Regions from separate parts of the Homo sapiens genome. Here all the other regions are linked to region 1. Evidence: fine-mapped expression QTL. A gene starts in region 1. Each other region holds a variant in brackets. All regions are shown on one strand. Distances are from middle to middle.

Region 1 (10,494 bases):
TGGCTAACGCGGTGAAACCCTGTCTCTACTAAAAATACAAAGAATTAGCCGGGCGTGGTGGCGGGCGCCTGTAGTCCCAGCTACTCGGGAGGCTGAGGCAGGAGAATGGCGTGAACCTGGGAGATGGAGCTTGCCTTGAGCCGAGATCCTGCCACTGCACTCCAGCCTGGGCGACAGAGCGAGACTCCGTCTCAAAAAAAAAAAAGCATTTCTCTATGTAATATCTTATATCTACTCATATTTTAAATGTACTTAGAGCTGAAAAATAAAAAAAGTCCTAATGAGTTGAAATGAAGCTGATTTAAAATGCTTTCCCCATAAAAACAGTCTTTTTTTTTTTTTTTTTTTGAAACGGAGTTTTGCTCTTGTTGCCCAGGCTGGAGTGCAATGGCGCGATCTTGGCTCACTGCAACCTCTGCCTCCCAGGTTCAAGCGATTCTCCTGCCTCAGCCTCCCGAGTAGCTGGGATTACAGGCATGTGCCACACCAGGCCCAGCTAATTTTGTATTTTTAGTAGAGACAGGGTTTCTCCATGTTGGTCAGGCTGGTCTCAAACTCCCGACCTCAAGTGATCTGCCTGCCTTGGCCTCCCAAAGTGCTGGGATTACAGGCGTGAGACACCACGGCCGGCCCTTAAAAACATTCTTAAAGGGCAGCTTTTAATTAACTGTTTTGGTGTGGAGAAGGGAGAAAGTTTTTCTCTGTCACTCAGGCTAGAGTGCAGTAGTGATCGTAGTTCACTGCAGCCTCAAACTCCTGGATTCCAGTGACCCTCCCAAGTAGCTAGGACTACATGCACACCACCATACCCAGCTAATTTTTATAATTTTTTTTTTTTTTTGAGACGGAGTCTCACTCTTTTGCCCAGGCCGGAGTGCAGTGGCGCGATCTTGGCTCACTGCAAGCTCCACCTCCTGGGTTTACGCCATTCTCCTGCCTCAGCCTCCCGAGTAGCTGGAACTACAGGCGCCAGCCACCGTGCCCGGCTAATTTTTTGTATTTTTAGTAGAGATGGGGTTTCACCGTGTTAGCCAGGATGGTCTCGATCTCCTGACCTCGTGATCCGCCCGCCTTGGCCTCCCAAAGTGCTGGGATTATAGGTGCGCACCACCGCGCCCAGCCTTAATTTTTATAATTTTTTTGTAGGGATGAGGTCTTGCTATGTTGCCCAGGCTGGTCTTGAACTCCTGGTCTCAAGCAATCCTCCTGCCTTGGCTTCCCACAGCACTGGGATTACAGGCATAAGCTACCATATCAATCCCCAGCTTTTAACTTAAAAGTACTATAAAACCATATTCAATCTACTCTTCATCAACTTTTTCTTTTTTTTGAGACAGAGATCTCACTTTGTTGCCCAGGCTGGAGTGCACTGGCTGTTCACAAATGGGATAATAGTGCACTGCAACCTGGAACTCCTGGGCTGAAGTGATCCTCAGGCCTTGGCTTCTCAAGGTGGGACTTCAGGTACATGCCACAGTGTCCAGCTTTCAGTCAATTATTAATGTTCTACCTGAATAGTGTCCCTACTAAAGTTTTTGAAAGTATTTTTCCATGAATAAGGGGACTGAAAATATGAATCAAATATAAAGCAATTTAAACTTGGACAAGTCACTTAGATTCTCTGTGCCTAAAATTTGTTTGTAAAACAGTGGAGCCTGGATTATTTGACCTCTCAGATCTCTTCTACCAACTCCACAGAATTTATTAACCTTATAAACTTGAGGCAGAATCACAGTGTAGTATACTATGTTTTCATGTTTTGCTTTATTTTAATGAGAATCATAAGCGAAAGAGGGCTGGATGTGATATATTGGAAGAGTAGCACAAGGCAGCAACTATGACCTAGGTTCTCATACTTTATCATTTCACCTTTATTTGTATATTATCTGTAAAACTGGTAAATAAAAATCTGCCATAGTTCCTATGGTTGTGGAGATTAAATGAAAGAAAATTTGATGTAAATGGTGAATCACTATATGAATGGGATCAATTTTTTTTTTTTTTTTTTTTTTTTTGTGGAGACAAAGTCTCACTCTGTTGCCCAGTCTGGAGTGCAATGGTGTGATCTTGGCTCACTGCAACCTCTGCCTCCTGGGTTCAAGCAATTCTCCTGCCTTAGCCTCCCAAATCGCTGGGCTTAAAGGCGTGCGCCACCACGCTCAGCTAAATTTATTTATTTTTTTTTGTGAGAAGGAGTTTTGCTCTTGTTGCCCAGGCTGGAGGGCAATGGTGCAATCTCAGCTCACCGCAACCTCCGCCTTCTGGGTTCAAGCCATTCTCCTGCCTCAGACTCCCGAGTAGCTGTGATTACAGGCATGCACCACCATGCCTGGCTAATTGTGTATTTTTAGTAGAGATGGGGTTTCTCCATGTTAGTCAGGTTGGTCTCGAACTCCCAACCTCAGGTGATCCGCCCGCCTCGGCCTCCCAAAGTGCTGGAATTACAAGCGTGAGCCACCGTGCCTAGCCTAATTTTTGTATTTTTAGTAGAGATGGGGTTTCACCATGATGGCCAGGCTGGTTTTGGACTCCTGACCTCAAGTGATCCACCTGCCTCGGCTTCCCAAAGTGTTGGGATTACAGGTGTGAGCCACTGCGCCTGGCCAAATGGAATCAATTTTTATCACTATTTTATTTTATTTTTTGAGATGGAGTTTTGCTCTGTCACCTAAGCTGGAGTGCAGTGGCGCAGTCGCAGCTCATTGTAACCTCTGCGTCCCAGGTTCAAGTGATTCCCCTGCCTCAGCTTCCAGAGTAGCTGGGACTACAGGTGCCTGCCAACACACCTGGCTAATTTTTGTGTTTTTAGTAGAAATGGGGTTTCACCATGTTGGCCAGGCTGTTCCCAAACTCCTGACCTCTGATGATCCGCCTACCTCAGCTTTCCAAAGTGCTGGGACTACAGTCGTGAGCCACCATGCCTCACCAAATTTTATTATTTTCTTTTTTGCAGGTTTACCTCAATGTATGATCTTCCAGAAACAGTTCTGAAACCTACAGGTTAATGACCTTGTATTAGCATAATATGGTTTGCTAATATTCACTTAATACTCATAAGTTTGTAGTTGGCAAAGCTGGAAATAGAACTCAGGTTCACTGAGTGTCATCAATGTTATTCTCATCAGATCTTGCTGTTTATTCTTTTTGAAACTGCTTATTAATTTGCTTTAAATATTAACAACACAGATACTGGATAATAGTAAATCATAAGAATTTTAAAATTTTGATGGTATCTCAACTGATCAGCTTTTCTTAAATTTTCTAGGTTTCCTCAGCACAGGGGAAAGCTTTATAGGTGGAAGGTGGAGGCCCTGTGACTTGCGCAGAAAAGTACCACTGTAATTTACTTTTATGGGCACCTAAGCAGGTTGCCCAGGGCAACTTGTAGATTTTGTTGTTGTTGTTGTTAATACTATCTCCTTCAGTCACTGAGAACTCTTTTTTATTTTTTTATTTTTTGAGATGGAGTTTTGCTCTTGTTGCCTAGGCTGGAGTGCAGTGGCGTGATCTTGGCTCACTGCAACCTCCGCCTCCCGGATTCAAGCGATTCTCTTGCCTCAGCCACCCGAGTAGCTGGGATTATAGGCATGCGTCACCACGCCCGGCTAATTTTGTGTTTTTAGTAGAGATAGTGTTTCTCCATGTTGGTCAGGCTGGTCTCGAACTCTTGAACTCAGGCGATTCGCCTGCCTCGGCCTCCCAGAGTACTGGGCCTTAAATGCTGGAATTATAGGCATGAGCCACCGCGCCCAGCTGAGAACTCTTCTTGTTATCAAATGACCCTCTTTACTACTGGTTCTAGAATTTCGTTCAGCTTTGGCTCAAAACATAATGCAGAAAACGAAATCTAGTAAAAACAGAAGACAAATTAGCTGATAAACTTTGTTGGCATAATTAGTACCATAAAATCTGGAAAAGCTAAATCTTAAATTAAAAATTTTTTAGATTTCCAGGATAATTCACAAATGTTTATAGATTCAGAAACAAAAGGTCCATTGCTTTATACTTTACATCATAGACAACCACTGCAGTTTTCTAATATGGGTTTCACCTTCTTCAAACCTGATATTCTTAAAATGTGGAGTTCAAACTGACTATAGTTAAGAACGAAACAAATAGCCAATACAAAGAATAATAAAAGGATGAGTTCAAATTATCTGCCACATGTCATCAACTTTTATTAAATGATAAAAAGGTTAATTAAAATTGTAAATGATTTTTCAGAAGAAATTACATCTTAAAATTGGCCTGTGAAAGTGGCTTGAAAGGTATAAAAATCTACCAGTAGCTGGTATTAGCTTTCTTAGTAATTTAATTTTCAGTTAGAGAAAGCCAGACCACTTTGACCTTTCGAAGTCCTTTGGTATAGATACATATACATTTAAAAAGATAAATGAAAACAAGCCATTGATTAATAATGCCCATCGCAGAAGCTGTAATTATAAAATTAAGATTTTTTGATGTCACTGTTGATGTTGAATATAGTTAATAGAAAAGCAAAAATAAAAAATAAAAAAGGTCTAATTTTGAGGCACTCTTTTGTCTCTGCTCAGGTCCACCGTCTTCCTTGCTAATGTTTACGTTTATTATTAATTTTTCCATTTATTTATTTACTTTTACCACAATTAGGGGACAGAGAATGAAACCTAAACTTTTTATTGCTTCTGTAAAGAGTGAATATAAATGTAAGATTTTTTTTTTTTGAGACGGAGTTTTGCTCTTGTTGCCCAGGCTGCAGTTCAGTGGCGCAATCTCGGCTCACTGCAACCTCTGCCTCCCAGGTTCAAGCAATTCTGCTGTCTCAGCCTCCCAAGTAGCTGGGATTACAGGCCCGCGCCACCTCTCCTGGCTAATTTTTTGTATTTAGTAGAGACGGAGTTTCACCATGTAGGTCAGGCTGGTCTCGAACTCCTGACCTCAGGTGATCCACCCGCTTCGGCCTCCCAAATTGCTGGGATTACAGGCGTTGAGCCCCGGCGCCCGGCCACCAAATCCTTTTTCAAAACAACTCCCTTCTTTGACACAGTGCAATTTAAATAAGTATACAATTAACAAAGTACGTTTTTCTTGTTCAAAACCATCACTGAACAGTTTGCAACAGTAGGGTATGAATGCATACAATCTCGATGGTCTTTACACCTTCAGAGGCTATTCGGACTTAAGGAAACGTGCATTTACAAGTGTAAATGTAAAAGCTCAGTAGTTGCCTTGTAAAGTGCTTTTCGGGGTTGTGGGGTTGGGGGTGGTAGGAGTAGGTGGTGCCTCAAATTATACTAGCGAATACCAACATTCCCAAACATCTAGCCCTCTGCCTAAACTCACCCGGTTGCGGTCTGTCATTTTCGCTCTTCTTTGTTAATTTTTTCGGCAAAGTCAGTTTTCATGCAGCAGATGGCAAGAAAGCCGGTGAACGCCTAGGGACGTGGCCTTTTAACCGCACCCAATTAAAGCAGCAAACAGAAGATGAATAGCTGGGTGGATCAGTATGTGTAAACCTATCCGTTTAATCCGGGGAGCTGTTTTCCCGGGTGAAACCACGAATTCTTTCTGGAGGTTGCAACTCGTAACCATAGCAACTGGAAGTGGTCGCCGGCTCCCGGATGTTGTGGGGATCTGCGGCCGCCTGGCCCAGCTTCCCGCAGCCGCCCGGCGGCGGCCTGCGCTCCACTTCGGGAGTGGTAGTTCTTCTCTTCACCGCTGCCGGGCAGGAGGCGCAGGCGGGACTACGCGTCACGGCATGCACTGCGGCGCCCAGCCGGTCACCGCCTGCCGGCTGCAGACGCCTGCGAGCAGGTTGTTTTTATAAGAGGCGTCATTGGCGCCCGAGCTGTGACCGCCGCCACTGGGGCAGCCAGCACAATCGGGCGGAGGTGGCGCTGCCCCTTCAGGTACTGTACTAGGCGGGCTTAGACCCCGGGAGGGGGTTTGTGCCGACTGTCTGAGTCCCTGGCCGACACGCTCGGCTCAGTAGAGGAGCAGTGGCGGGGTCCGCCTCCTAGGCTGGGGCTGCTCGGGCGGGGACTTGACGCCTGGTGTCAGCGGCCGCACGGGCGACCTCCTCGGGCCGTGCGCGAGTGCACAGCTCCGGAGGCCCGAGCCGACCCTGGGGCGTCCGGTCCGGTGGTCTTGCAGCCTCCAAACCCCGAGTGCTATACCGAACTGCGCGCCAAGGGTGGGAGAGCTGACGGCCTGGGCCACCCTTCTTCCTTCACTGGGCAGGCTTTGAGGTGCTTGTCGGTCTGGACTGATGAAAATCCATATGGTAAGATGTTATGTGCGTCACCCTGCCGGGTTTAATGCCAGCCTGTCTTTTGATGACATTTGAGCCCCCGTGATGTCAGGAATAGAAAGATTAAATATTAAATAATGCCCGGAGACTTCCGCTAGCACGCCAGCCTGATGATGATCAAATACCTCTCCATATCCTTCTCCAGTTCCAGTGGCCTCCTTTAGCTTTGGTCTCCCTAATCGATTTGTCCTCATTAGCAGCTGTCCCATGCAGTGCCTTGTACGCGTTGTTTATGTTTAGCACTATTGGGAGCGCCAAGTAAGGTATTTTATTGAGTGGTGAAGTTTGCACTGTTCTGCTCTACTTTTATTGAAAAACACAGTTGGGCATTCTTGTAGTTAGAATAGCTAACTATATAGTACTATGAATTTTAGATTTGTCTCCTCCAATCTACAGGATAGTGCTTGAAATATCGCTATTACTGCATCGTATCTTTTAAGATTAGAATCATATTGGGTCCCACACGTCTCAGGGGATATTTATCACACACATCCAGTGTGAATGGTTTACTTTTATTTTCTGAGTTCAGGTCATATAGCAGAAGATGGAGATGGTGAGGGTATTATTTTAATTCATATTTTTTTTTTTTTTGAGAGAGGGTTTCGCTCTTGTTGCCCAGGCTGGAGTGCAGTGGCGCGATCTCGGCTCACTGCAACCTCTGCCTTCCAGTTTCAAACGATTCTCCTGCCTCAGCCTCCCGAGTATCTGGGATTACAGGCGCCCGCCACCACGCCCAGCTAAATTTTGTATTTTTAGTAGAGACGGCGGGGCGGGGGGGGGGGTCTCAACGTGTCGGCCAGGCTGGTCTTGGACTCCTGACCTCGTGATCCGCCCACTTCGGCCTCCCAGAGTGCTGGGATTACAGGCGTGACCCACCGCGCGGGCGTTAATTCATAATTTTTAACCTTTTACGCTGAGGGCGGAATTTCAGTCAAAAAAGCTGATTAAAAATCAGCCCAAATACAATTTAAAGGTGTGGGAAATACTCCTTCTTAGATGAAAACAGTTTAGAAAATAGTGTAATTGCAATTTTGTAAACCATGGAACAAAAAGTGAACATAACTTCTTTTAGAAATGACTTAAAGGGTCCAGAGCGGTGGCTCAGGCTTGTAATCCCAGCACTTTGGGAGGCCCATGCAGGTGGATCACCTGAGGTCAGGAGTTCGAGACCAGCCTGGCCGACACGGTGAAACCCCGTCTCTACTAAAAATACAAAAATTAGCCTGTAAACCCAGCTACTTGGGAGGCTGAAGCAGGAGAATTACTTGAACCCGGGAGGCGGAGGTTGCAGTGAGCCACAAGATCTGGCCACCGCACTCCAACCTGGGTGACAGAGTGAGATTATCTCAAAAAAACAAAAAAAAAAAAACAAAAAAAAAAAAAGAGAAAAAGAAAGAAAAGAAATAAAGGATATTCACAGTTATAAAAGTGTAGATAGTGAAACTAGAAATGATTTTTCTTGTACTTTCCTGTATTTTTCAAGTTTTCTGTAGAAAAAACTTTTAAAAAAGGATGCAAGTATTAACAGCACTTTGAGAGTTTCTATATCATTTTTTTCACTTTCTAGTGGAAAGCCCCACCCTTATGCAAAAAAAAAAAAAAAGCAGCAATTCCAGTTATGGACTCTATGAACATTACTTTAAAAAGAAAATAAAGGCCTAGAGCAGTGGCTCATGCCTGTAATCCCAGGACTTTGGGAAGCCAAGGCAGGCGGATCACTTGAGGTCAGGACTTCAAGGCCAGCCTGGCCAACGTGGCAAAACCCCGTCTCTACTAAAAATACAAAAATTAGCTGGGCATGGTGGCGGATGCCTGTTATCTCAGCTATTCAGGAGGCTGAGGCAGGAGAATCGCTTGAACCCGGGAGGCAGAAGTTGCAGTGAGCCGAGATCATGCCACTGTACTCTAGCCTGGGTGACAGAGTGAGACTGTCTCAAAAACACCAAATAAGCAACAACAGTAAAAAACACAGGCAAAGTCCCTGTTGCTGCATCTGTAGACTATATGAATTTAAGTGTAAATTATTTGGAGAGTAGGGACAATAAATGAAATAGTTGGACTCGAAGAAAATAACAGATCCGACAATTTGTAGCATTTGTAGATCTCATTTTATTTTTTGGAGATGATGTCTTGCTCTGTCACCTAGTCTGGAGTGCAGTGGCCTGGACACGACTTACTGCAGCCTCCTGGGCTCAAGTGATCCCAACACAGCCTCCCACATAGCTGGGGCTACAGGCACATGTCACCAGGCCTAGGCCTGGCTATTACTTTTTTTGAGACAGAGTCTTGCTCTATTGTATGGTGGTTCAGTCTCGGCTCACTGCAACCTCTGCTTCCTAGTAGCTGGGATTACAGTGTGATTCAAGCTGAGTTCAAGTGTGATTCTCCTGCCTCAGCCTCCCAGTAGCTGTCACATGTCACAGACATGTGACACCATGCCCCACTAAATTTTTTTTTGAGACGGAGTTTCGCTCTTGTTGCCTAGACTGGAGTGCTATGGCAAGATCTCAGCTCACCACAACCTCCGCCTCCTGGTTTCAAGTGGTTCTCCCGCCTCACCCTCCCGAGTAGCTGGGATTACAGGCATGTGCCACCATGCCCGGCTAATTTTGCATTTTTTAGTAGAGACAGAGTTTTTTCCATGTTGGTCAGGCTGGTCTCAAACTCCCGACCTCAGGTGGTCCGCCTGCCTCAGCCTTCTAAAGTGCTGGGATTACAGACGTGACCCACTGCCCCTGACCTAATTTTTGTATTTTTAGTAGAGACTGGGTTTTGCCATGTTAGCCGGGCTGGTCATGAACTCCTGGCCTCAAGTGATCTGTCCGCCTTGGCCTCCCAAAGTGCTGGGATTACAGGCACGTAGCTGGGATTACAGGCACACACCACCATGCCCGGCTAATTTTTGTATTTTTAGTAGAGATGGGGTTTCACCATAATGGCCAGGATGGTCTCGATCTCCTGAATGCGTGATCCGGTTGCCTGGGCCTCCCGAAGTGCTGGCATTACAGGCGTGAGCCACCGCACCTGGCCCTAATTTTAAAATTTTATGTAGAGGCAGGGTCTCGCTATGTTTCCCAGGCTGGTCTCTTTGAACTCCTGGGTTCAAGCGATTTTCCTGCCTTAGCCTCCCAGAGTGCTGGATACAGGCATGAGAGCTCCATGTCTGGCCTGTACATCCCATCTTTTGATCTGGTTTCTTTTCACTTTGTACAGTTAAATCAGAGGTGAAAGTACTTAGCTTTTCTTCACTTAAGCCTGGAAAATCTTAAACTTGTCAACATTGAATCACGTTCAGAACCATGTTTTATATGTCTGATATTTTGGCTTATGTCTATTTTTGTTTTTATTTTTTGTTATGGTTATGTTGGATATGGACTGGTAAGTAGTATAATCAATCATTAGCCCACATTTTGCTTTCTGTTGTAAAGGGCTACATTGTTCTTCCACAGTAATATACAGTACATTTTTCTTTTTTTTGGCTACTATCAGCCCTTAAAAATTAAGGGGGTTTACCTTAACACCAAGTGTCCATTAACACTGGATAAAATATCTATTCTAAAGTGTTTTACAAAAAACACTGGTAACACGTTGTTTTTCAGGTTGTGGTGTTCATACTTTATTTTCTTAGGTTGTCTTCTTTGGAGCTTGCCTACTCCAAATGTCAATTTCTTTTCAATATTTTTTACCTTATAATTTTGTATATTCTGTGTACTGAGTTGGCTCAATATGTTATTAGGCTTTGGGTCTATTCACAGGGCATAAGAAAAATTCATAATTGATTAACATGTCTGATTTACTAACTCATTCCACAGTATTATTGTATGGGTTGTATAATTATATTCTTATGCAAGTTAAAGAAAGACTTTTAAAAATTAGGTGCATATGAACTGCTAAAATCATGGAAGTAGTAGTTTTTGAACATGTTAAGAACATGAACACAGCAGCAAGGCCTGTTAAGTCCAAGGTACTTTAAACAAAAAATGCAGACTCATCTAACAGTGCAGAACTGCTGGAGGCTGAATTATGTTTGTGTTTCTTTGTGGTGAAGATGAGGAAGTTGCAGTATTGTAAGTGATAAAGGATTACATTTTCACAAATTTCCTTCCTGACAGTTCCATAATTGTAACTAGACTAAAACACTTGGTTTCAAAGGTCATTTGCAATGTATTGCATCAGATAAACTTGGCCATATTTTCTCTCAATTT
Region 2 (10,494 bases), 50 kb before region 1:
ATGGGATGTATTTCCATTTGTTTGTGTCATCTATGATTTCTTTCAGCAGTGTTTTGTAGTTTTCCTTGTGAGATCTTTCACCTCTTTAGTTAGGTATATTCCTAAGTATTTTGGTTTTTTGTTTTGTTTTTTGGGTTTTTTTGCAGCTGTTGTAAAAGAGGTTGAGTTCTTGATGTGATTCTCAGCCTGGTCCTTGTTGGTGTATAGTAGTGCTACTGATTTGTGTGCATTGATTTTGTATTCTGAAACTTTACTTGAATTCATATATCAGATCTAGGAGCTTTTTGGATGAATCTTTAGGATTTTCTAGGTATACGATCATATCATTGGCCAACAATGACAACTTGACTTCCTCCTTACTGATTTAGATGCTCTTTCTTTCTTTCTCTTGTCTGATCGCTCTGGCTAGGACTTCCAGTACTCTGTTAAATAGTGTTGGTGAAAGTGGACATCCTTGTCTTGTTCCAGTTCTCAGGGGAAACACTTTCAACTTTTCACTGTTTATTATAATATTGGCCATGGGTTTGTCAAAGATGGCTTTTATTACCTTAAGGTATGTCCCTTCTGTGCCCATTTTGCTGAGGGTTTTAGTCATAAAGGGATGCTGGATTTTGTCAAATGCTTTGTGTGTGTGTGTGTGTGTGTGTGTGTGTGTGTGTGTGTGAGACAGAGTCTCACTGTGTTCCTTAGGCTGGAGTGCAGTGGCATGATCTTGGCTCACTGCAACCTCTGCCTCCCAAATTCAAGCAGTTCTCCTGCCTCAACCTCCCCAGTATCTGGGATTACAGGTGTGCACCACCACACCTAGCTAACTTTTTGTATTTTTTAGTAGAGACAGGGTTTCGCCATGTTGGCCAGGCTGGCCTCAAAACTCCTGACCTCAAATGATCCGTCTGCCTCGGCTTCCCGAAGTGCTGGGATTACAGGCATGAGCCACCACACTCGGCCTCAAATGCTTTTTCTGCATTTATTGAGATGATTGTATGATTTTTGTTTTGACTTCTGTTTATGTGGTGTATTATATTTATTGATTTTTTGTGTGTGTATGTTAAACCAGCCCTGCATCCCTGGTATGAAACCCACTTAATTATGGTGTATTACCTTTTTGATATGCTGTTGCATTTGGTTAGCTAGTATTTGGTTGAGGAGTGTTACATCTGTGTTCATCAGGGATATTGTTCTGTAGTTTTCTTTTTTTTTTTTTTGTTATGTCCTTTCCTGGTTTTGGTATTAGGGTAGTACTGGCGTTGTAGAATGATTTAGGGAGGATTTCCTCCTTATCTTTTGAAATAGTTTTAATAGGATTGGTACCAGTTCTCTTAGAATGTCTGTTAGAATTCAGCTGTTGGGCTGGGCACATGGCTCATACCTGTAATCCCAGCCTTTGAGAGGCCAAGGCAGGCAATCTCCTGAGGTCAGGAGTTCAAGACCAGCCTGCCCAACGTGGTGAAACCTCATCTAACTAAAAATACAAAAATTAGCAGGGTGTGGTGGCATGTGCCTGTAATCCCATCTACTCGGGAAGCTGAGGCAGGAGAATCGCTTAAACCCGGAGATGGAGGTTGCAATGAGCCGAGATCTCACCACTGCATTCCAGCCTGGGGGCAAGAGAACAAGACCCTGTCTTAAAAAAAAAAAACCAGCTGTGAATCCATCTGGTCCTGGACTTTTTTTAGTTGGCCATTTTTAAATTACTGTTTCAATCTCCCTACCTGCTATTGGTCTTTTCAGAGTTTCTATTTCTTCCTGGCTTAATCTGGGAGGATTGTTTAATTCCTTCTAGGTTGAGGAATTTATCCATCTCCTGTAGGTTTTCTAGTTTGTGTGCACAAAGGTATTCATAGTAGCTTTGAATGATCTTTTGTATCCCTGTGGTATTTGTTGTAATTTCTCTCATTTCATTTCTAATCGAGCTTATTTGGATCTTATTCTTTTCTGGGTTAATCTTACTAATGGTCTATCAGTTTTGTTTGTCTTTTCAAAGAACCAGCATTTTGTTTAATTTTTCTTTTGTATTTTTTTCTTTCAGTTTCATTTAGTTCTGCTCTGATCTTTGTTATTTCTTTTCTTGTGCTGGGTTTGGGTTTGATGTGTTCTTTTTTCTCTAGTTTCTTGATGTGTGAGCCTAGATTGTCTGTTTATGCTCTTTCAGACTTTTTGATGTAGGCGTTTAGTGCTATGAACTTTCCTCTTAGCACTGCTTTTGCTGTATCCCAGAGGTTTTGACTGGTTGTGTCACTATTATCGTTCAGTTCAAAGAATTTTAAAATTTCCGTCTTGATTTCATTGTTGACCCAAAGATCATTCAGGGGCAGGTTACGTAATTTCCATATATTTGTATAGTTTTGAGTGTTCCTTTTGAAGTCAATATCCAGTTTTATTCCACTGTGGTCTTAGAGAGTATTTGATATAATTTTGATTTTCTTAAATTTACTGAGATGGGCTGGGCGTGGTGGCTCACACCTGTAATCTCAGTACTTTGGGAGGCCTAGGTGGGTGGATCACGAGGTCAGGAGATCGAGACCATTCTGGTCTCTAACCAGAGACCAGAATCTGGTGGCTAACACGGTGAAACCCCATCTCTACTAAAAGTACAAAAAATTAGCCAGGCGTGGTGGGGGGCACCTGTAGTCCCAGCTACTCGGGAGGCTGAGGCAGGAGAATGGCATGAACCCAGGAGGCGGAGTTTGCAGTGAGCCGAGACTGCACCACTGCACTCCAGCCTGGGCAACAGTGCAAGACTCTGTCTCAAAAAAAAAAAATTATTGAGATGGCTGGGCGCAGTGGCTCATGCCTGTAATCCTAGCACTTTGGGAGGCCAGGGAAGGTGGATCACCTGAGGTCAGGAGTTTGAGACCAGCCTGGCCAACATGGTGAAACCTTGTCTTTACTAAAAATACAAAAATTAGGCTGGTGTGGTGGCGGGGGCCTGTAATCCCAGCTGCTTGGGAGGCTGAGGCAGAAGAATCACTTGAGCCCAAGAGGTGGAGGTTGCGGTGAGTCGAGATCACGCCACTGCACTCCAGCCTGGGTGACAAAGCGAGGCTCTGTCTCAAAAAAAAAAAAAAATTATTGAGACTTGTTTTGTGTTCTATCATTTGGTTTATCTTGGAATGAATGTTCCATGTGCTGATGAAAAGAATGCATATTCTGCAGTTGTTGGGTAGAATATTCTGTAAATATCTATTAAGTCCATTTGTTCTAGGATATAGTTTAAATCCATTATTTCTTTGTTGACTTTCTGTCTTGATTACCTGTCTAGTGCTGTCAGTAGAGTACTGAAGTCCTCCACTATTATTGTGGTGCTATCTCATTTCTTAGGTCTAATAATAACTGTTTTATAAATTTGAGAATTCCGGCCGGGCGCGGTGGCTCATGCCTGTAATCTCAGCACTTTGGGAGGCCGAGGCGGGTGGATCACGGGTGGTCAGGAGTTTGAGACCAGCCTGACCAACATGGTGAAACCCCGTCTCTACTAAAAACACAAAAATTAGCCGGGCGTGCTGGCACGCACCTGTAATCCCAGCTACTCAGGAGGCTGAGGCAGGAGAATTGCATGAATCTGGAGGTGGAGGTTGCAGTGAGCCGAGACTGCACCACGGCACTCCAGCCTGGGCGACAGAGTGAGACTCTGTCTCAAAAAAAAAAA[T/AT]AAATAAATAAGTAAATAAATAAATAAATAAATTTGAGAGTTCTAGTGTTAGGTGCATAAATATTTAGGATTGTGATATTTTCCTGTTGGACTAATTCTTTTATCATTATATAATGTCCTTTTTTATCTTTTTTAACTGTTGTTGCTTTAAAGTCTGCTTTGTTTTGTATAAGAATAGCTATTCCTGGCTAGGCGCAGTGGCTCACGCCTGTAATCCCAGCACTTTGGGAGGCCGAGGCGGGCAGATTACGAGGTCAGGAGTTTGAGACCAGCCAGGCCAACATGGTGAAACTCTGTCTCTACTAAAAATACAAAAATTAGCCAGGCGTGGTGGCGCGTGCCTGTAGTCCCAGCTACTTGGAAAGCTAAGGCAGGAGAATCGCTTGACCCCAGGAGGCAGAGGTTGCAGTGAGCCAAGATTGCACCACTACACTCCAGCCTGGGCAACAGAAGGAGACTCTGTCTCAAAAAAAAAAAGAAAGAAAGAAAGAAAGAAAAAAGAATAGCTACTCCTGCTGACTTTGGTGTTCATTTGCATGGAATATCTTTTTCCACCCTGTTTATGAGTCCTTATATGTTAGGCAAGTCTGTTAAAAGACTTACTTGGTTGGTTGATTTTTATCCATTTGACATTCTGTATCTTTTAAGTGGAGCATTTAGGCCATTTACATTCAATATCAGTATTGAGATGTGAGGTACTGTTCTATTCATCATGCTAGTTGTTGCTGTACCTTATTTTTTTTCATTGTGTTATTGTTTTATAGATCCTATGAGATTTATGTTTTAAGGAGGTTCTATTTTGGTATATTTTGAGGTTTTGTTTCAATATTTAGAACTCCTTTTAGCATTTATTGTAGTGCTGGCATGGTAGTGACAAATTCAGCATTTGTTTGTTTGAAAAAGACTTTATCTCGCCTCTGGTTATGAAGCTTAGTTTCACTGGATACAAAACTCTTAGCGGATAATTATTTTGTTTAAGGAGGCTAAAGATAGGACCCCCATCCCTTCTGGCTTGCAGGGCTTCTGCTAAGAAATCTGCTGTTAATCTGATAGGTTCTCCTTTATAGATTACCTGGTGCTTTTGCCTCACAGCTCTTTTTTTTTTTTTTTTTGAGACAGAGTCTTGCTCTGTCACCCAGGCTAGAGTGCAGTAGCGTGATCTCGGCTCACTGCAACCTCCAACTCCCGGGTTCAAGCAATTCTCCTGCCTCAGCCTCCTGAGTAGCTGGGATTACAGGCACCTGCCACCACGCCTGGCTGATTTTTGTATTTTTAGTAGAGATGGTGTTTCACCATCTTGGTTGGCCAGGCTGGTCTCGAACTCCTGACCTCGTGATCCACCCGCCTTGGCCTCCCAAAGTGCTGAGATTACAGATGTGGGCCACTGTGCCTGACCTTGCCTCACAGCTCTTAAGATTCTTTCTTTCATCTTTACTTTAGACAATGTGATGACTATGTGCCTAGGCAATGATCTTTTTGCAATGAATTCCCCGGGTGTTCTTTGAGCTTCTTGTATTTGGATGTCTAGATCTCTAGCAAGACCATGGAAGTTTTTCTTGATTATTCCCTCAAGTATGTTTTCCAAACTTTTAGATTTCCCTTCTTCCTCAGGAGCACCAATTATTCTTATGTTTGCTTGTTTACATAATCTCAGATTTCTTGGAGGCTTTGTTCATTTTTTAAAATTCTTTTTTTCTTTGTCTTTGTTGGATTGGGTTCGTTTGAAAGCCTTGTCTTTGATCTCTGAAGTTATTTCTTCTACTTGTTCAAATCTATTGTTGAAACTTTCCAGTGTATTTTGCATTTCTTTAAGTGTGTCTTTCATTTCCAGAAGTTTTGATTATTTTTTCTTTATAATATCTATTTCTCTGGAGACTTTTCCATTCATATCCTCCTTTTTTTAAAAATTTCTTTAAGTTGATTTTCACCTTCCTCTAGTGCCTTCTTGAGGAGCTTAATAATCAACCTTCTGAATTATTTATCTGGCAATTCACAGATTTCTTCTTAGTTTGGATCCATTGCTGGAGAGCTAGTATGATCTTTTGGGGGTGTTACAGAACCTTGTATTGTCATATTACTAGAATTACTTTTCTGGTTCCTTCTCATTTGAGTAGACTGTTTCAGTGGTAAGATCTGGAACTCAAGGGCTACTGTTCAGATTCTTCTGTCCCATGGGTGTTCCCTTGATGTGGTGCCCTCCCCCTGCCACTAGGGATGGGGCTTCCTGAGAGCCAGACTGCAGTGATTGTTATTGCCCTTCTATTTCTAGCCACCCAGTTGGGCCCCAGGCTGGTGCTGGGGAATGTCTGCAAAGAGCCCTGTGATGTGATCCACAGGTCTCCCAGCCGTGGATACCAGCACCTGTTCTGGTGGTGGCAGGTGAGTGAAGTGGATTCTGTTGGAGTCTTTTGTTGTAATTTTGTTTAGTGCACTTCAAGTACTGGTTATGTAAGCAGTGAAGTTGTCACGTGGACAGATTCAGGACCTCTGGCTAGACAGGGTGTTGCAGGAAGTGGAATTAGCTGTTGTTTTCTCCTTCTTTGGAGCAGGGTTGTTCTGTTATGAGTTGCTATGGTGGCTTGAGTTCGTTGGGCTCCAGCCAGGAGGTGGCACTTTCAAGAGGGCACCAGCTGCAGTATAGAAGAGAGATATAATCTTGATGTTGGCCGGGACAAGTACTCGGGTTTCTCAGGTGATGGGCAGGGCCATAGAGCAGGTAGAGAAAACCTTGCCCCATCAGGTGGGGGCAAGGTTAGTTGGGTCTGGGCTCAGGCTCCCCTTGGGTGGGGCTTGCTGTGGCCACAGTGGGGGTGGAGGGGATTCTCAGGCCAATGGAATTATGTTCCCAGGGGCATTATGGCTGCCTCTGCTGTGCTATACAGGTCACCAGGGAGGTGGGGGAAAGCTGGCAGTGACAGGCCTCACCTAGCTCCCAGGCAGCCACCAAGGCCAGTCTCACTCTGGCCATGCCACCCCAACCGCACTGCGTTTATATCCAGGCAGTTGGTGAGCAGGGCTGAGATCTTGCCCCAGACTATAAGCCTTGCCACTGAGAAAGCAAGAGGGCTGTTAGGCCTCACCAGTCCCTGCCTGCCCACACTATTGGCTGTGGCTTCTGCACTCGCATCTGTACTTCCCATTTGCCCCCTCTGCCACCAATTTCTGCTTAGGAAAATTCCTGCTCAGTCAAAATTATTACAAAGTTCAGCTACAAGCTTCCTTCACCCTGTGGTCCTGCCCCAATTCCACTGGCTGCCTTCCCGTCTCCAAGGACCTCTGTGAGATCACGCCAGGAATGGCTTCCTTGGACTCCAGCTGGGGATGGAAGTACCTATAGGGCTCTTCCTGCTGCTTCTTCTACTTTCATATTTTGCTCAGCTACCTAAATCTATTTCAGCTCAGGGTAAAGTTAAATCCTTCCCCTGTGATCTGGATTTTCAGGTTCCCCAGTGGGGATGTATGTTCAGAGACTGACCTTTTCTTCCCTCACACTTTGGGAACTCACGGTTTTTCAGCTGTTTCATGGCATTTGCAGCAGCGAACCACTTCTTTCAAAGGGTCTGTGAATTCTTTCAGTTTTCCTACAGTGTTTCTTGCGGTGTTCCTGAAGTGATTCTTGGAGTAAAAGTTCGCATTGTGAGTCTCCAGATGCTGTTCTGTCCATCCAGGTGGCAGCTGCATGTTAATCCTGTCTCCGATCTGCCATTTTCCCTCCTATCTCCCAATGAATATAATTCTATACTGAAAGCTACGAGTTTGGTTTTATCTAATTTTAGAATATTAAACTTTGTTTTGGATGCATTTTCCGCCGGATGCAGTGGCTCACGCCTGTAATCCCAGAACTTTGAGAGGCTGAGGCGGGCAGATCACCTGAAGTCGGGTGTTCAAGACTAGCCTGACCAACATGGAGAAACCCTGTCTCTACTAAAAATACAAAACTAGCCGGACGTGGTGGTGGGTGCCTGTAATCCCAGCTACTCGGGAGGCACTGAGGCAGGAGAATCGCTTGAACCCAGGGAGGTGGAGGTTGCAGTGAAGCGAGATCTTGCCATTGCACTCCAGCCTGGGCAACAAGAGTGAAACTCCATCTCAAAAAAAAAAAAAAGAAATATTTAGTATTTTCCTTACATAAGTCATTATTGAATTCCTATAAATTTAACATTTTAGTGTAAAATCACATATATAATAATAATAATTAACATTTATTAGGTGACTACTATGTGCCAGGGGATTTTATTGCTTGGGTCACTCAGTCTTCACAACACTTCAGTCTAAGTGCTGCTATTCTTATTTTAGAGGAAATAGATGTTCAGAAAAAAAAAATAACTATGAATAAGTAAACTTGTGGGATTTGAACCCAGATCTGGTCTGCATCTGAAACCTGTGCTATTTCCACCAGGTCATATGTCTTTACAACTTTAACAGTGAGGCTTGGCATATTGAAAAGTCATTTAGAGCCTGGGCATGGTGGCTAACGCCTATAATCCCAGTACTTTGGGAGGCCGAGGTGGGCAGATCACCTGAGGTTAGGAGTTCCAGACCACCCTGGGCAACATGGCGAAACCCTGTCTCTACTAAAAATGCAAAAATTAGCCAGGTGTGGTGGCATGCGCCTGTAGTCCCAGTTACTCAGGAGGCTGAGGCAGGAGAATCACTTGAACCCAGGAGGAAGAGGCTGCAGTGAGCCAAGATCGCGCCACTGCATTCCAGTGTGGGTGACAGAGTGAGACCCTGTCTCAAAACAACAAAAACAAAAAAAAGTCATTTAGATTGAATATATATATATATATATATATATATTCAATTTGCTAATATTTTATAAGCAGTTGTCACATTTATCTTCATATTGAGGTTCAGTTATATTTTTCTTTCCTCATACTGTTCTTGTCTAGATTGTATACCAAATTGTACCAGACCTATATACTATAGAGCGTTTTTCTTTTTCTACTATTTGAAACAATATAGTTAGATAAGAGAAATACCTGTTGTTTTAAGGCTTAGTAAAACTTCCCCTAAAACTGTCTAGGTCTGGAGTTTTTTTATGGAGGTTTTTTTAAAAAAAAAAAAAGATTCAGTTTCTATAATAGTTATTGATTATTGAAATTTTCCAAAGTCAATTTTGGTAGTTTGTCTTCTAAATTGTGCATTTTATCTATTCAAATTCATTTTCATAAAGTTTTTATTTACTTATCTGTACTTTATCTATAATTATATAATTTATTAATTTCTAATATTGTTCTTTTTTTTGAGACAGGATCTCACCCTGTCACCCAGGATGAAGTATAATGGATCTAGCTTGATGCTTAATAAAGTAATCTATCCTTTGTTTCTGGTTGTTTTAAAATTCTTTCCCTTGGTATATTATGGGTTCATTAGTATAAGTTCAATTTTATATTTATTTATCTCATAATATCATAACTTGGAGCATACTGTCACTCAGAGAACTTTGTCATTCATCAATTCTGGGAATTTCAAAACTATTGTCTTCAAATATTACCTTCTTGGCTGGTAATTTACCTTCTTGGCTCATGCCTGTAATCTCAGCACTTTGGGAGGCTGAGTTGGGCGAATTACTTGAGACCAGGAGTTCGAGACTTGCCTGGCTAACATGGTGAAACCCCATCTCTACTAAAAATACAAAAATTAGCTGGCTGTGGTGGCACATAGCTGTAATCCCAGCTACTTGGGATACTGAGGCATGGGAATTGCTTGAACCCGGGAGGCAGAGGCTGCAGTGAGCCAAGATCGTGCCACTGCACTCTAGCCTGGGTAACAGAGTGAGACTCTGTCTCAAAAACAAAAACAAAAACAAACAAATATTACATTATTGTATTCTCTTGTTTTCAATATATATTTTCAAATTACACAGATGTTTTTCTTTTTTTTTGAGACAGAGTCTTGCTCTGTTGTCCATGCTGGAGTGCAGTGGCACGATCTCAGCTCACTGCAACCTCCACCTCCTGGGTTCAAGCAATTCCCCTGCCTCAGCCTCCTTAGTAGCTGGGACTACAGATGTGCACCACCACACCAAGCTAATTTTTGTATTTTTAGAAGACACGGGGTTTCACCATATTGGCCACGCTGATCTTGAATTCCTGACCTCAAGCGATCTACCTGTCTTGGCCTCCCAAAATCCTGGGATTACAGGCGTGAGCCACCATACCTGGCCAACTTTCTTGTATTCTCTTTATCTTCCTCAGCTATTTTCTGTATAATATCCTCAGATCTATCTTCTAGTTTATAAATTTTCTTCAACCATGACTAATTTTATGTTATACTTGTCCAAGATGTTTTTAATTTCAGTGACAATATTTTTCATTTTGAAAGTTCTGTTTTTTGGCCAGGCGCTGTGGCTCATGCCTGTAATCCCAGCACTTTGGGGGGCCGAGGTGGGTGGATCACGAGGTCAGGAGATGGAGACCATCCTGGCTAACCCGGTGAAACCCCGTCTCTACTAAAAGTACAAAAAATTAGCTGGACGTGGTGGTGGGTGCCTGTAGTCCCAGCTACTCAGGAGGCTGAGGCAGGAGAATGGCGTGAACCCGGGAGGCAGAGCTTGCAGTGAGCCGAGATCGCGCCACTACACTCCAGCCTAGGCGACAGAGCAAGATGCTGTCTCAAAAAAAAAAAAAAAAAAAAGAACTGTTTTTTTTTCACACCTCTCTGTTCTTTGTCACTAGCTTCTTAGTTTTCATTATTGATGTTAGCCTGTCTTTACTGGCTTTAAGTAAGTATGTTTAAAATGATCAATCTCTTTCAGATTGTTGTGCTATTTCAAAGTCTTGGGGAGCCAGTCGTCTTATTTGTTGTGTCTGCTGATTGTTCCTCATACTGGATTGTTTCCT
Region 3 (10,494 bases), 61 kb before region 1:
ATCAAGTTTCCTAAGAAGTCCTCTTGGTATTTTGATTGAATTTACATTGACTTTGTAAATTTGCAGCGCATCAACATACTTATAATATTGAGATTTCCCTCCAGGAACATGGCATTTATCTCCATTTATTTGGATATACTTTACATCTCTCAGCAAAATTATTTAACACACATATATGACTTGCTTATATATTTTTTGTTTGTTTGTTTTGTGTTTGAGACGAAGTCTGTCTCTGTATCCCAGGCTGGCGTGCAGTGGCGCGATCTTGGCTCACTGCAACCTCCACTTCCCAGGTTCAAGTGATTCTCCTTCCTCAGCCTCCAGAGTAGCTGGGATTACGGCGTGCGCCACTGCACCTGGCTAACTTTTTGTATTTTTAGTAGAGACGAGGTTTCACCATGTTGGCCAGGCTGGTCTTGAACTCCCAACCTCAGGTAATCCGCCCACCTCAACCTCCCAAAGTGCTAGGATTACAGGCATGAGCCACCGCCCCTGGCCTTATGACTTGCTTATATTTTGCTAAGCTTATTCATTTATGTTTTTCTGGTGATTGCTGATGAAATTAACGTTTCCATTGTAGTTTCTAATTATTTATTGCCAGTTTGTAGGAAAGTAAGTTTGTTTTTATAAGTTTGTATAAGTTGATCTTTTTTTTTCTTTTGAGATGGAGCCTCACGCTGTCGCCCAGGCTGGAGTGCAGTGGCATAATCTTGGCTCACTGCAACCTCCGTCTTCTGGGTTCACGCGATTCTTCTGCCTCAGCCTCCTGAGTAGCTGGGACTACAGGCATGCACCACCACGCCTGGCTAATTTTTATATTTTTAGTAGAGACAAGGTTTCAACATGTTGGCCAGGCTGATCTTGAACTCCTTACCTCATGATCTGCCCACCTCGGCCTCCCAAAGTGTTGAGATTATAGGCGTGAGCCATCGCGCCCAGCTAGTTGATTTTATATGTGACTGCCTTGCTGAACTTACTTTTGGTTTGTCAGTTTATTATTTTGGTTATTTTAAGTAGTGTACTATTATTTGCAAATGATGCAATTCTATCTCCTTGTAATCTATATTTGTATTTCTTATTTTTAAAAGTTTATCATTTAGGTTCTGACCTCTAGGAAAATAGTAAAACATTAGGTATACTTGCCTTAGTGATTTTGCTGGAAATATTTCTAATATTTCTTTTATTTTTTATTTTTATTTTTTTGAGACGGAGTCTTGCTCTGTGACCCAGGCTGGAGTGTAGTGGCGTGATCTAGGCTCACTGCAACCTCCACCTCCCAGGTTCAAGAGATTCTCCTGCCTCAGCTTCCCGAGTAGCTGGGACTACAGTTGTGTGCCACCACGCCCAGCTAATTTTTTTATTTTTTGTAGAGATAGGGGTTTTGCCATGTTGGCCAGGCTGGTCTCGAACTCCTGACCTCAGGTGATCCACCTCCCTCGGCCTCCCAAAGTGCTGGGATTACAGGTGTGAGCCACTGCGCCCGGCTATTTCTAATATTTCGTCATGAAGTATAACATAGTCTTGGTCCTTCTATCCAGCTTATAAATTTTTATTTCTTATTTTTATTCCCAATATCAACTGACATTTTGGCATACACTGACATCATAATGCTTTTCTCTATTGATTTCCTAATACCTTAAGTAAGAAAGACCCTATTTGATCAAGGTGTATTATAATTTTAATATTTTCCTAGGTTAAGTTACCCCTATTTGATTAAGGTGTATTATAATTTTAATATTTTCCTAGGTTAAGTTACCCCTATTTGATTAAGGTGTATTATAATTTTAATATTTTTCTAGGTTAAGTTTGCATATATATATATATACACACACACATATATATACACACATATATATACACACATATATATACACACATATATACACACATATATATACACATATATATACACATATATATACACATATATACACATATATATACACACACATATATATATATACACACACACATATATATATATATATATATATATTTTTTTTTTTTAGGTTTTTTTTTTGTTTGTTTTGAGGTGGCCTCTCACTCTGTTACCCAGGCTGGAATGCAGTGGCGCAGTCTCGGCTCACTGCAACCTCTGCCTCTTGGGTTTAAGCGATTCTCATGCCTCAGCCTCCCGAATAGCTGGGATTACAGGTGTGCGCTACCACACCTAGCTAATTTTTGTATTTTTAGTAGAGATGGGTTATCACCATTTTGGCCAGGCTGGTCTCTAACTCCTGACTTCAAGTAATTTGCCTGACTCGGCTTCCCAAAGTGTTGGGTTTACAGGCGTGAGCCTCCATGCCGGGCTGAGTTTGCTAATGTTTTATTTACAATTTTTGCATGTAATTCACAAGTGGGATTGGCTTATAAAGAACAATGCCTTGTTGACCAGACATTCATTCTAGATTAAAAGAATTATACATTTCCTCTTCTTCAAAAATTTAGTGTAGGAACTATTCATTATTCTCGTATTAGTTTTATTTGCTGTCTGCATTAAACTAATAACCTGTAGTAAATGGCATCCTTTTTTGAACAGTACAAACACCTAAAACCCAATTTGTTTATTTTATTTTTTTTGAGAAGTCTCACTGTGTCACCCAGGCTAGAGTGCAGTGGGGCGATCTTGGCTCACTGTAACCTCTGCCTCCGAGATTCAAGTGATTCTCCTGCCTCAGCCTCCCAAGTAGCTGGGATTACAGGTGTATGCTACCACACCCACCTAATTTTTGTATTATTAGTATAGATGGGGTTTCACCATGTTGGCCAGGTTGTTCTTGAACTCCTGACCTCAAGTGATCAACCTGCCTGGGCCTCCCAAAGTGCTGGGATTTCAGGCATGAGCCACTGCCCCCGGGCCTCCAGTCCTTTATGTACGATGATTATTATTTTAGCCTTCTGAGTTTTTCTGTTACTGCATATTCCTCCGTGTGTCTTCCCTGTATTAGATGATTTTTCTTTGAAAGACCTTCAAGGATTGTTTAATATTTGTCGGTGTCTGTGTTAAATTGTGTGTTTCCTATATTAGATGATTTTTATTTAAAATATCTTTAAGAGCTGGGCACGGTGGCTCACGCCTGTAATCCCTGCACTTTGGGAGGTTGAGGCGGGTGGATCATTTGAAGTCAGGAGTTTGACACCAGCCTGGCCAACATGATGAAACCCTGTCTCTACTAAAAATACAAAAATTAGACGGGCATGGTGGTACACACCTGTAATCCCAGCTACTCAGGAGGCTGAGGCAGGATAATTGCTTGAACCCGAGAGGCGGAGGTTGCAGTGAGCGAAGATCGTGCTACTGCACTCCAGCCTGGGTGACACAGCAAGACTCCATCTCAAAATAAGTAAGTAAATAAATAACAAAATATCTTTAAGAATTGTTGGCTGGGCGTGGTGGCTCACGCCTGTAATCCCAGCACTTTGGGAGGCCGAGGCGGGCAGATCACGAGGTCAGGAGATCGAGACCATCCTGGCTAACACAGTGAAACCCCATCTCTACTAAAAATACAAAAAATTAGCCGGGCGTGGTAGTGGGTGCCTGTAGTCCCAGCTACTCGGGAGGCTGAGGCAGGAGAATGGCATGAACCCGGGAGGTGGAGCTTGCAGTGACCCGAGATCGTGCCGCTGCACTCCAGCCTGGGCGACAGAGTGAGACTCCATCTGAGAAAAAAAAAAAAAAAGTTTAACATTTGTCCATCTCTTTATGACATCATAAAAAATATATATTTGGTCCCTGCCTCTTGTTATTAGCATAGAGCTCCTAAAACCCATGTAATTTTCTGAGTGATGGGGTGCTAGGTTCATCTTTTGTTAAATTATTTGGATTTTGACCCAGGTTCCTGACACAGAGCTCCTAATCCCTTGGAATTTCCTATGTAATAGGAAAATCTTTTGTTCTAATGAGGCAACTCTTGATGGGCTCTTGGGTGGTGGCTGGCCACCAGAAAGACCAAGCTATGACTAGTTGTCTGGAACTTGCAGCACCCCTCCCCATCATTTTGATAGGGGCTGGAGACTGACTTAATAATCAATCATGCTGGGTCCACTGGCTTACGCCTGTAATTCCAGCACTTTGGGAGGCCGAGGTGGGAGGATCGCTTGAGCCCAGGAGCTCAAGACCAGCCTGGGCAACATAGATAGTGAGACCCTGACTCTAAAAACAACAACAACAAAATTAGCCATTCGTGGTGCTGCGGGCCTGTGGTCCCAACTACTTGAGAGGCTGAGGTGAGAGGATCACATGAGCCTAGGAAGTGGAAGCTACAGTGAGCTAAGGTTGTGCCACTGCACTCTCCAGCCTGAGTGACAGAACAAGACCTTGTCTCAAAAAAAAAAAAAAAAAAAAAATCCGCCAGGCATAGTAGCTCATGTCTGTAAATCCCAGCACTTTGGGAGGCTGAGGTGGGTAGATCACTTGAGCCCAGGAGTTCAAGACCAGCCTGGGCAGCAAGGGAAAACCCCATCTTTACAAAAAAATAACATAAAAAATTAGTCAGGCTTGGTGGCATGTGCCTGTGTCCCAGCTACCTAGAAGGCTGAACTGGAGGATCGTTGGAGCCCAGGAGGTTGAGGCTGCAGTGAGCCATGATTGCGCCATTGCACTCCAGCCTGGGTGACAGAGCAAGACCCTGTCTAAAAAAAAAAAAAAAACCCAGTCATGCCTGCTAGATAAAACCTCCATAAAATTCCTGTAACTATGAGGTTTGGAGAACTTCTGGGTTGCTGAACACTTGGAGGGAGAAGGCATGGAAACTCTGTGCTCCTTCCCCGGTATCTTTCCCTAGACATCTCTTTCATTTGCCTCTTCCTGATTTGCATCTTTTTATTAAAAATGGGTAAATATGGCTGGGCGCGGTGGCTCACGCCTGTAATCCCAGCACTTTGGGAGGCCTAGGCGGGTGGATCACCTGAGGTCAGGAGTTCAAGATCAGCCTGGCCAACATGGTGAAACCCTGTCTCTACTAAAAATACAAAAATTAGCCAGGCGTGGTGGTATGTGCCTGTAGACCCAGCTACTCAGGAGGCTGAGGCAGGACAATCACTTGAACCTGGGAGGCGGAGGTTGCAGTGAGCCGAGATCGTGCCACTGCACTCCAGCCTGGGCAACGGAGTGAGACTCCGTCTCAGAAAAAAAAAAAAAGGGGTAAATATAAGCGAGGTATTTATCTGATTCCTGTGAGCCATTGAAGCAAATGGTCAAACCTGAGGAGGGGGTTGTAGAAACCCCCAACTTATAGCTGATTGGTTAGAAATATGGGAGTCCTGGACTTATGATTGGCATCTGTGTGGAGACTGTCTTATGGAATTGAGCCCTTAACCTGTGGGATCTAATGCTAACTCCGGGTAGATAATGACAGAACTGAATTAGAGGACACATAGCTGATGTTAGAGAATTGGTAAGCATAGGCCGGGCGCAGTGGCTCACGCCTGTAATCCCAGCACTTTGGGAGGTCAAGGTGGGCGGATCACGAGGTCAGGAGATCGAGACCATCCTGGCTAACACAGTGAAACCCCGTCTCTACTAAAAATATAAAAAAAAAATAAATTAGCCAGGTGTGGTGGCAGACACCTGTAGTTCCAGCTACTCGGGAGGCTGAGGCAGGAGAATGGCATGAACCCAGGAGGCGGAGCTTGCAGTGAGCCGAGATTGCGCCACTGCACTCCAGCCTGGGCGACAGAGTGAGACTCCGTCTCAAAAAAAAAAAAAAAAAAAAAAAAAAGAATTGGTAAGCATAGGAGAAACCCACAAGTTTCGTGATGGAAGTGACCTATGGAGTGTTGTGAGAGTATATAAGAGGCATAAACAGTTTGTTTTTTCTCTGTACACTCTGTTTTTCTTTTTCTTTCTTTCTTTCTTTTTTTTTTGAGAGGAGCCTCGCTCTTGTCCCCCAGGTTTGAGTGCAATGGCTTTATCTCGGCTCACTGCAACCTCCACCTCCCAGGTTCAAATGATTCTCCTCCCTCTGCCTCCCAAGTAGCTGGGATTAAGGGCCTGCCACCAAGCCCGGCTAAATTTTGTATTTTTTAGTAGAGACAGGGTTTCACCATGTTGGCCAGGCTGGTCTCGAACTCCTGACCTCAGATGATCCACCTGCCTCAGCCTCCCAAAGTGCTGGGATTTCAGGCGTGAGCCACCGCGCCCGGTCACTGTACACTCTGTTTTTCTTTGGTACATGTAGTCTCTTTTCTCTTTATCATAAGCTTTGTGTTATTTTCTTCTTCATGTTTTTCTCTTCATTGTAGTTCCTTCTGTTACCTACTCTGTGAAGCCTTTCTTGGTTTCTCCTCTTCATCACTACTCTCTGAAGAGCTGGACTATTTCTGTCTCTAATATAGCTTATTATAAATTATCATTATACCTATAGTTCCCTTAACTACATCTTGGCTATAATACCAGAACTTTCCTGTTATTTTTTGTTGTAAGAACAGTCTCATTTTTGGTAATTAAGACTTAGTCTTATGCATTTTAAAAACTTCATGTAAAATTCATTCTTCTTGCAGGGAGTATGATGGGTGAGGGTGTCTGACTCTCCACATATTCTCCCTTTTTCATGTGTTGGGGCAGAGAGTGAAAAAAGGCAGACATATAATTAGGCTGGGTGAAGTCGTCTTTTAGGTTGTGGCTTCCTCTCTAACATGGAGTGTTCATCATGCCTTATTGTGAGGCATTTAAATTTTGTTTCATTGCCATGTGTAGATTCTTCCTGGTTCAATCTGTTGGCAGCTTACTGGCAACTCTCTGAACTAAGAATATATAGTAATAATTAGCATATTTTGTGCTTAATTTAAGCCTGAGGTAAAATTGGGACTACAGGAAATTTTCATTCAGTGTCCCGTGAAATTTATTTTAAAGTCAGCATCTCACAGGAAAATAATCAGTCTTCTAGAAGAGAGTATTATGTCATGTAGATATTACAGAGCACCTTTCAGTGCACAGGTTTCATACTCGTAATGTTAAATCTCTATTTTAAAGTAATACAACATTTAGGGACCTTCATCCTAGCATATCCATAGTCTAGAACCACTTCAGATGTCCTATTTAAATGTAAATTAATTTAAATGTACATTAATGAAACTTAAATAACATTAAAAATTCAGTTCCTGAGTCTCAGTAGCCACATTTGAAGTACTTAATTAGCCACCTGTGGCTAGTGGCTACTATATTGGATAGCACAGACATTTTGATCATTGAAGTAAGTGCTTCTCTAGTGGATAGAGGTAAGAAATTTTTCTTACCATAGGAAAGTCAGATACATGGAGTCAATCATGTACACCAACTAGGTACTCTGTTTCACAAGGTTTTTTTTCTTGCCC[A/G]TGTGAGGGAAGTTTGAAAGGCAGAAAAGTTGCCACACACCTGTACAAGATACTGCTTTCAAATTCATCTGATATTTAGCTCTTTGAAAGTGTCAGACAACTACTAGTGCAAACATAGGTTTTGCAGCAGGATTAAGACTTCAAATATTTCCACCCAGCAGAGACAGACCGTCTTGTTCATCCTTCCTATTTCCTTTTCTACTGTTCCCTCTTCCTTCAGTCCTTAGGACTGAAGGGTTGGCACAACTTCGGTTGACAGGGTAAGACTTGGGATAAGTTGAAAAGCAAATGTTTGAATATATGTGTTGGGATGTGTGTGTGTGTGTGTGTGTGTGTAGATTTTGAGAGAAGTGGCTTAACTCCTAGAATAATAAATTTCTATTATTTTTTCTACCAAGCCCTTAGGTATCATCTAATTGAATGCCTGCCCACATTTTACATATAAGTAAACTGAGGTTGGAGAAAGTGATTGCCTAAGACCATACAGCTAATGGTAGATCTGGGACTAAAATCTTTGTTCCATGACTCCAACACCAATGGTTTTTCTCCTGAATCATTTACCTTTCCCATTTTAATTCATAATTCACTACTACCTATTGTTACAAATACAATGGCAAGAGTTTAGAGGTATGAATAACTAATTATTGTAATGAATTTCTCATTTAAATAAATGTTGCTTTTATGTATTTTAAAGAATTTGGTAATTGCAATTGTTATAGATTGAAGAAGAAGAGAGGAAAAAAATAGAAGATATGAAAGAAAATGAACGGATAAAAGCCACTAAAGCATTGGAAGCCTGGAAAGAATATCAAAGAAAAGCTGAGGAGCAAAAAAAAATTCAGAGAGAAGAGAAATTATGTCAAAAAGAAAAGCAAATTAAAGAAGAAAGAAAAAAAATAAAATATAAGAGTCTTACTAGAAATTTGGCATCTAGAAATCTTGCTCCAAAAGGTAAAATGATTAAGAATTTCTTGAGTAGTGAGTCCTGTTGGTGAAGTATATATGACGCTTTTCTTTTTTTGTAAATCTATTCACAGCATTAGGTTACTGTTTTGGCACATTGAGAATAAGCAATTCAGTACAAAGACTAAAGTAAAGACATTTCTTCTTTCGGGGATAATGAAGTTTTCTAATAAAATGAGCAAGGATTCGTTCAAGGATTCGAAAAGAAGAGTGTCTTCTTTGCTTGTGTGCTTTCTTTTGAAATTTACAAAGATGTTGTTAAATAAGTGCTTAACTCAGGCCCAAAAAGACTTGGAGTGGACTAGCAATGTCAGAAGCATTCATTTATTCCATTAGAGATAAGAAACTAGGAATTTCATTAAAAGACCTTTTCCTCACATCACTTAGGAAAATGAGTACTATAAGCAGACTTACTCTACAGCAAATAAAGATTGCTTCTAGCTTTTAATCTTGGTGTATTCAAAAACAGATAAATTAATATAATTTTTTTTTTTGAGACAAGGTCTGGCCCTATCGCCCAGGCTGGAGTGCAATGGTGTGATCTGAGCTCACTGCAGCCTCTGCCTCCCCAGCTCAAGCCATCCTGCCTTAGCCTCCCAAGTAGCTGGGACTACAGGCATGTGCCTCAATGTCCAGCTAATGCTTTTTTGTATTTTTTGTAGAGACGAGGTTTTGCCATGTTGCCCAGGCTGGTCTTGAACTCGTGAGCTCAAGCAATCTGCCTGCCTTGGCCTCCCAAAGTGCTGAGATTGTGTGCATGAGCCACCATGTCCAGCTGATACAAATATAATTCAGTTTTTGTATGTGTGTGTTTTTAAAATTATTATTTCAGTAGTTTTGGGGAAACAGGTGGTGTTTGGTTACATGTATAAGTTCTTTAGTGGTGATTTCTGAGATTTTGGTGGACCCATCAACCAAGCAGTGTACACTGCACCCAATGTGTAGTCTTTTATCCCTCACCCCTGCACCCTTCCCCCCTAGTCCCCAGGCCCATATCATTCTTATGCCTTGGCATCCTCATAGCTCAGCTCCCATTTATGAGTGAGAACATGGGCCAGGAGCAGTGGCTCATGCCTGTAATCCTAACACTTTGGGAGGACAAGGCGGGCAGATCATCTGAGGTTGGGAGTTCGAGACCAGTCTGACCAATATGGAGAAACCCCATCTTTACTAAAATTACAAAATTAACCAGGTGTGGTGGCACATATCTGTAATCCCAGCTACTCAGGAGGCCGAGGCAGGAGAATCGCTTGAACCTGGGAGGCGGAGGTTATGGTGAACCGAGATCGTGCCATTGCATTCCAGCCTGGGCAACAAGAGCAAAACTCTGTCTCAAAAAAAAAAAAAAAAAAAGTGAGAACATATGGTATTTGGTTTTCCATTTCTGAGTTACTTCATGTAGCATAATCGTCTCCAACTCCATCCAGGTTGCCGAGAATGCCATTATTTTATTCCTTTTTATGGCTGAGTAGCATTCCATGATTGTATGTGTGTCTGTGTGTGTGTGTGTGTGTGTGTGTGTGTATATATACACCATATTTTCTTTATCTTCTCATTAGTTGATAGGCATTTAGGCTAGTTCTATATTTTTGCAATTGCAATTGTGCTGCTATAAACATGAGTGTGCAAGTGTCTAATGACTTCTTTTTCTCTAGATAGATACCCAGTAGGGGGATTGCTGGATCAAATGGCGGTTCTACTTTTCGTTCTTTAAGGCATCTATCTCCACACTGTCTTCCATAGTAGTTGTACTAGTTTACATTCCCACCAGCAGTGTAAAAGTGTCCCTTTTCACCACATCTACACCAACATCTGTTATTTTTTCATTTTTAAATTATGGTCATTCTTAACAGGAGTAAGGTGGTATCGCATTGTGGTTTTGATTTGCATTTCCCTAATAATTAGCGGTGTTGAGCATTTTTTCATGTTTGTTGGACATTTGTTTGTTTGTTTATTTATTTTGAGATGGAATTTCGCTCTTGTTGCCCAGGCTGGAGTGCAATGGCACGATCTCGGCTCACCACAACCTCTGCCTCCCAGGTTCAAGCGATTCTCCTGCTTCAGCCTCCCGAGTAGCTAGGATTACAGGCATGTACCACCATGCCTGGCTAATTTAGAGATGGGGTTTCTCCATGTTGGTCAGGCTGGTCTCGAACTCTTGACCTCAGGTGATCCGCCTGCCTCAGCCTCGAAAAGTGATGGGATTACAGGCATGAG

Which allele goes with the higher level. Alleles are on the strand shown, and positions count from the first base shown. SD is a standard deviation of normalised expression in the study named. Not every link is listed here.
For the expression in skeletal muscle of the gene that starts at base 5,614 in region 1, A is the low allele of the variant in region 3 and G is the other (small effect, 0.36 SD a copy in GTEx).

The links. PIP is the estimated chance that this variant, and not a neighbour inherited with it, causes the effect.
Region 2: its variant is the best candidate, but not a certain one, in a credible set for the expression of PIERCE2 in whole blood (INTERVAL, PIP 0.59).
Region 3: its variant is the best candidate, but not a certain one, in a credible set for the expression of PIERCE2 in skeletal muscle (GTEx, PIP 0.51).

Annotation. Positions count from the first base shown.
Region 1 is chr15:55,403,615-55,414,108 of GRCh38, reverse strand. It overlaps PIERCE2 (piercer of microtubule wall 2), which reads right to left and starts at 5,614. Exons shown (of 2, transcript NM_001198784.2): 1 at 5,323-5,614. The coding sequence starts at 5,340. It overlaps CCPG1 (cell cycle progression 1), which reads left to right and starts at 5,750. Exons shown (of 9, transcript NM_001204450.2): 1 at 5,750-5,888. All of the region lies in intron 8 of DNAAF4-CCPG1 (DNAAF4-CCPG1 readthrough (NMD candidate)), which reads left to right. RefSeq lists enhancers at 5,371-5,570, 5,621-5,890, 6,251-6,530, 10,264-10,494.
Region 2 is chr15:55,453,343-55,463,836 of GRCh38, reverse strand. The region is part of intron 5 of DNAAF4 (dynein axonemal assembly factor 4); the gene reads left to right. The region is part of intron 4 of DNAAF4-CCPG1 (DNAAF4-CCPG1 readthrough (NMD candidate)); the gene reads left to right. Among named protein-coding and RNA genes, the nearest start is that of DNAAF4-CCPG1, 40 kb to the left of the region's middle. The variant T/AT (reference allele first, on the strand shown) is at 3,650.
Region 3 is chr15:55,464,701-55,475,194 of GRCh38, reverse strand. DNAAF4 (dynein axonemal assembly factor 4) reads left to right here. Exons shown (of 10, transcript NM_130810.4): 5 at 8,034-8,265. DNAAF4-CCPG1 (DNAAF4-CCPG1 readthrough (NMD candidate)) reads left to right here. Exons shown (of 16, transcript NR_037923.1): 4 at 8,034-8,265. Among named protein-coding and RNA genes, the nearest start is that of DNAAF4-CCPG1, 29 kb to the left of the region's middle. The variant A/G (reference allele first, on the strand shown) is at 7,315.